2 separate regions of the Homo sapiens genome follow, and region 1 is linked to region 2. A link means that fine-mapping ties the variant in region 2 to the expression of a gene that starts in the linked region. Tissue or cell type: whole blood. Region 2 holds a variant in brackets; the other region holds the start of a gene. All regions are shown on one strand. Distances are between the middles of the regions. Region 1 holds the start of TMUB2 (transmembrane and ubiquitin like domain containing 2). Region 2 overlaps HROB (homologous recombination factor with OB-fold).

Evidence for each region. PIP is the estimated chance that this variant, and not a neighbour inherited with it, causes the effect.
Region 1: it holds the start of TMUB2, and the variant in region 2 is the best candidate, but not a certain one, in a credible set for the expression of TMUB2 in whole blood (TOPMed, PIP 0.56).

Annotation. Positions count from the first base shown.
Region 1 is chr17:44,185,535-44,188,439 of GRCh38, forward strand. It overlaps TMUB2 (transmembrane and ubiquitin like domain containing 2), which reads left to right and starts at 1,438. Exons shown (of 4, transcript NM_001076674.3): 1 at 1,438-1,575; 2 at 2,142-2,209. The coding sequence starts at 2,175. ASB16-AS1 (ASB16 antisense RNA 1) reads right to left here and starts at 1,183. Exons shown (of 3, transcript NR_049730.1): 1 at 1,031-1,183. RefSeq lists an enhancer at 762-1,296.
Region 2 is chr17:44,162,373-44,165,277 of GRCh38, forward strand. HROB (homologous recombination factor with OB-fold) reads left to right here. Exons shown (of 10, transcript NM_001171251.3): 10 at 1-104. Among named protein-coding and RNA genes, the nearest start is that of ASB16, 6.9 kb to the right of the region's middle. The variant G/A (reference allele first, on the strand shown) is at 1,602.

The DNA of each region.
Region 1 (2,905 bases), 23 kb after region 2:
GAGTAGCCAGGATTACAGGCGTGCGCCACCACGCCCGGCTAATTTTTGTATTTTTAGTAGAGACGGGATTTCACCATGTTACCCAGGCTGGTCTTGAACTCCTGACCTTGTGATCCGCCTGCCTTAGCCTCCTAACGTGTTGGGATTACAGGCGTGAGCCACCGCGCCAGTCCTAATTATCTATTTCTTGATCTAAGTGCTACTTCTGCCAGTGTTCAGTTGGTAGAAGCCACCGAGCTTTTTGCTTATGTTTGCCCCTGTCTGGATTATTTATCCTTTAATCAGTAGTTCTCCAAAACCCCAAACTCCAGCGCTTTTTTTTTTTTTTTTGGAGACAAGGCCTCCCTGTCGGGTGCAATGCAGTGGCTCAGATCATAGCTCACTGCAGCCTCGAACTCCTGAGCTCAAGCGATCCTCCCACCTCTGCCTCCCAAAGCGGTGGGATTACAAGAGTAAGCCACTCCCCCCGGCCACAGTAAGTTTTTAGAAAAAATTTTAATTGCGGCCGAGCGCGGTAGCTCACGCCTGTAATGCCAGCACTTTGGGAGGCCGAGACGGGGGCGGATCACCTGAGGTCGGGAGTTCGAGACCAGCCTGACCAACATGGAGAAACCCTGTCTCTACTAAAATACAAAATTAGCGGGGCGTGGTGGCGCATGCCTGTAATCCCAGCTACTCGGCAGGCTGAGGCAAAAGAATCGCTTGAACCCGGGGGGGCGGAGGTTGCAGTGAGCCGAGATCGCGCCATTGCACTCCAGCCTGGGCAACAAGAGCGGAACTCCCGTCTCAAAAAAGAAAAAATTTTAACTGCAAAAATCTGGATAAGTTCTTGAAAGCTGGACTTTTCCCCCTTTTTGTGTCCTAAGCCTGCGCCGAATCTGTGCCTTCTTTGAAATGCTTTCCCGCCTTCTTTCTCCGGGTCCCACACTACCTGGGGCCGCACTCTTCAAGCACTGGATGCTGACTAACTGGTCTCCTTATCTGTCTTCCCGACTGGCCCAGAGCTGAGTTCTTACTAATCCCCGCTAACCTGGAGTTAGGTGCGCGTTGCAAAGCAGTAACGAATCCAATCAGCCGGGGAGGCAGACAGCAGGGCCGGAAGAACAAAGCTGGAAAGGGAAACGTCGCACCGGCTCTGCCCAGCGGCGCCAGCCCGGGCAACCTTCCGCAGTCGCGAAGCCACGCCCCTTTCCCAAGTACCTCCGCGCTAACTCCTCCCCCCTGGCCCCGCCTCTCACCCTGGATTGCCTAAGGCCCCGCCCACCAGGCGTGGCCCCGCTCTGGGAGGGCCGCAATCCCGCCAACAATGACTCCACCCCTCCTTCCGCTGAGAAACCTGTCCCTTTTATTTAAAGAATACCTTTTACGTCAGCCCGTCTTACGCAGCTTCGCGTCATCAGTGCAAGGCGCGGAGGCGGGACTTCCTGTCCCTGGTATAACAGCTTCCGGGAGAAGCCGGAAGAGACCGGACCCTGAACAGAATCGCAGATTGCCAGCCCTTTTCCCGACCCCTACGGAAAGACGAGTCCAGGGGCCGTCCTGGCGAGGTCAAAACATTTAGTCTGGTCTTTTCAGGTGAGGACTTCCCCATCCAGGCACAGTGCCGGTCCAATCCCCCTTTAATTTCCCATGACTCCTCGCGTCCTGAAGCCCCGCCCCCAGTTCCCCAGCCCCGCCCCGAAGTTTGAGGGGTGTGGACGGTTTGTGACCCCCTTAGCCGACCCTACTCCTCACTGGCCGGGACAACTGGTCTTATCACGGAGGCTGGGGCCAGGCAGCCCTTCGGTTCGGGTGGGCCCATGGACCCCAGTCCAACGCCGAGGGAATAGGACCATCCAAAAGCGGAACCTTCGCCTCAGAAAAAGGGTGCGGGACCCCTCCTCACCGTGCGGTCACGGTACGGACAGGGTAGATCACAGGCTGAGGGACAGAGCAAAGACCCCTGAGGCCGGACACCTGGGGTCCTGCCGGGCCCCTCCCCACGAGAGTTCCCTGTGTCTGTGCCAATCGTTTTCGTCTTTCTTTGCCGCAGTTTCTTTTCCTGTAAATCATGGTTAATAACATTAACCTTCTTACCATCAGGGGTTAGTTGTGGTTGTGATAAATAATTACTACCGTTATTAAGCAATTGCAATTTGCAGTGTGCCAGGCACTGTGCCAAGTATTTTGCTTCGATGATTTCACGTCATCTTCAAAACAACCTCATGAGGTAGGTACTGTTTTTAACCCCATTTTACTGATGAGAAAGCTGAGGCTCTGAGAAAGTTGTCTGAGGTGTTATAGCTAGTAAGACGCAAGACTGGGGTTATAATTAGTTGTTTTTCTAACTCCAGGGCCGGTATATTAAATAAGGATGTTGATGTGTTCCACAGATAATTCTTTGAGCAACTACTGGGGCATTATATTGGACACTTCAGTACCAAGAGAAATACATACGATCCTTGTCTACCAGGAGTCTAATAGAAAGATGGACAGGTACATAAGTATAATGAAGTTTTATAGGTGCTGTGAGAATAGTCTGATAATGGTAATCACCAGACTGGATTTGCCCAGGGACAGCTGTGAAAGCAGCAGATTCTCCAAGGGAAATAGTAGGTACTCCAAGGAGCAAGCAGGGACCCTTCCTGCCTTTCTAAGAAACTGCAGCAGCAGAACCTTCACAGTGAAAGAAGAGAGACTGAGATATGGATTGTGAGAGCTGTTATGGAATCTTTTTCAAATCACTCCACTTGGGGAGTGGTCATTGCAGGAGTGGGCCCATGGTGACCCAGGAAGGTGGTGCTTCTGGTGTCTGTCCCAAGTTGCTCCCCAGGGCTTGCCAGAAGTTTCAGAGGCGGCACATAATGTCTGCTGCATAGTATCTGCCCGCGGTCCCTACAGAGTTATCGTTTTAGATTTGTCTGAC
Region 2 (2,905 bases):
CTTCAGACCTGTGGTTGCTCTGCTCATCCATGCCCAAGGTTCCCAGGTGCAGGACAGAGGTGTGGCCTATTGTACCTTGTTCTGAAATAAAGCATCTCCTGCTTCTTCTGCCTCCCTTTCTTTTCCACCCCCTGCTGCTCCTGCCTAACTGCCCTGCCAGTGCTGTGTGGCCACAAAAGGGCTCAGGCAACTCTTTTTCTCTTTTTTTTTCTTTTTTATATACTTTTAGACTTCTAAAATTTTTTTTTTGAGACGGAGTCTCGCTCTGTCACCCAGGCTGGAGTACAGTGGCGCTATCTCGGCTCACTGCAAGCTCCGTCTCCCGGGTTCATGCCTTTCTTCTGCCTCAGCCTCCCAAGTAGCTGGGACTACAGGCTCCTGCCACCACGCCCGGCTGATTTTTTTTTTTTTTTTTTTTTTTTAGTAGAGACGGGGTTTCACCGTGTTAGCCAGGATATTCTCAATCTCCTGACCTCATGATCCACCCCGCTTGGCCTCCCAAAGTGCTGGGATTACAGGCGTGAGCCACCATGCCCGGCCTTAGACTTCTAAATTTATAGATTTATTTATTGCAAAGATAGTACAGAGAGTTCCCACATACCCCACACCCAGTTTCCCAGTTAATATTATTTTATTTATTTATTTTTGAGCTGGAGTCTCGCTGTCGCCCAGGCTGGCGCAATCTCCGCTCACTGCAACCTCCACCTCCCAGGTTCAAGAGATTTTCCTGCCGGCTGGGCGCGGTGGCTCACACCTGTAATCCCAGCACTTTGGGAGGCCGAGGTGGGCGGATCATGAGGTCAGGAGTTCGAGACCAGCCTGGCCAACATGGTGAAACCCCGTCTCTATTAAAAATACAAAAATTAGCGGGGCGTAGTGGCACGCACCTGTAATCCCAGGTACTCAGGAGGCTGAGGCAGGATAATTGCTTGAACCCAGGAGGCAGAGGTTGCAGTGAGCCGAGATCACGCCACTGTACTCCAGCCTGGGCGCTGGGCGACAGAGCAAGACTCCGTCTCAAAAAAAAAAAGATTCTCCTGCCTCAGCCTCCGGAAGCTGGGGATTACAGGCACACGCCACCACACCAGCTCATTTTTTTTTTTTTTTGACATGCAGTTTCACTCTTGTCGCCCAGGCTGCAGTGCAATGGTGTGATCTCGGCTCACTGCAACCTCTGCTTCCTGGGTTCAAGTGATTCTCCTGCCTCAGCCTCCCAAGTAGTTGGAATTACAGGCGCCTGCCACCACGCCCAGCTAATTTTTGTATTTTTTGTAGAGACAGGGTTTCACCATGTTGGCCAGGCGGGGCTTGAACTCCTGACCTCAGGTGATCCACCCGCCTCGGCCTCCCAAAATGCCGGGATTACAGACATGAGCTACCGTGCCCAGCCTAATTTTTTTATTTTTAGTAGAGACGAGGTTTTACCATGTTGGCCAGGCTGGTCTGAAACTCCTGACTTCAGGTGATCCCCCCACCTCAGCCTCCCAAAGTGCTGGGATTACAGGCATGAGCCACCATGCCCAGCAATTTTTTTGAGACAGGGTCTCTCTCTGTCACTCAGGCTGGAGTGCAGTGGCCCAGTCATAGCTCACTGCAGCCTC[G/A]ACCTTCAGGGCTCAAGCAATCCTCCTGCCTCAACCTCCCAAGTAGCTGGGACTACAGGCAGCACCACTATGGCTGGCTAATTTTTACATTTTTCTTTTCTTTTTTTTTTTTTTTTTTTTTGAGACGGAGTCTCGCTCTGTCACCCAGGCTGAAGTACAGTGGTGCGATCTTGGCTCACTGCCAGCTCCACCTCCCGGGTTCACGCCATTCTCCTGCCTCAGCCTCCCGAGTAGCTGGGACTACAGGCGCCCACCATCACGCCCAGCTAACTTTTTGTATTTTTAGTAGAGACGGGGTTTCACCATGTTAGCCAGGATGGTCTCGATCTCCTGACCTCGCGATCCGCCCGCCTCGGCCTCCCAAAGTGCTGGGATTACAGGAGTGAGCCACTATGCCCGGCCTAAGTTTTTAATTTTTCATAGAGACAAGGTCTCACTATTGTTGCCCAGGCTGGTCTCAAACTTACGTGATCCTCCTACCTTAGCCTCCCAAAGGGCTGGGATTACAGGTGTGGTCTCCCCTATTATTAACACCTTAGTATGGTACATTTGTCACAATGAATCATTATTAACTAAACTCCATACTTTATTCAGATTTACTCAGTTTCCCCCTAATGTCCTTTTCCCCTCAGAATCCCATTTCACAATCATCCTGACTCTTGGATGTGATAGTTTCTCAGACCTTCCCTGTTTTTGATGACCTTACAGTTTTGGGGAGTACCGGGTAGGCATATGGTAGAATCCCCCTCTATCAGGATTTGTCTGATGTTTCCTCATGATTAGACTGAGGTTCTGGGTTTTGGAGAGGAAGACCAGAGGTCAGGTGCCATTCTTGCCACATCTTATGAAGGGTTCATGCTGACTTTGATCACCTGACTGAGGTAAACTTTGCCAGACTTCTCCATTGTAAAGTTACTCTTTTTTCTTCTTTCTGTACTGGACCCTTTGGAAGGAAGTCACTGTGTGCAGCCCACATTTAAGAATTGGGGAATTATGTTCTACCTCCTTAAGGGCAGAATATCTACACAGGTTTTTGTTTTTTTTTTTTCTTTTTGAGATGGAGTCTCGCTCTGTTGCCCAGGCTGGAGTGCAGTGGCACAATCTTGGCTCACTGAAAGCTCTGCCTCCCGGGTTCACACAATTCTCCTGCCTCAGCCTCCCGAGTAGCTGGGACTACAGGCGCCCGCCACCATGTCCAGCTAATTTTTGTATTTTTAGTAGAGACGGGGTTTCACCTTGTTAGCCAGGATGGTCTCGGACTCCTGACCTTGTGATCCGCCCGCCTCGACCTCTCAAAGTGCTGG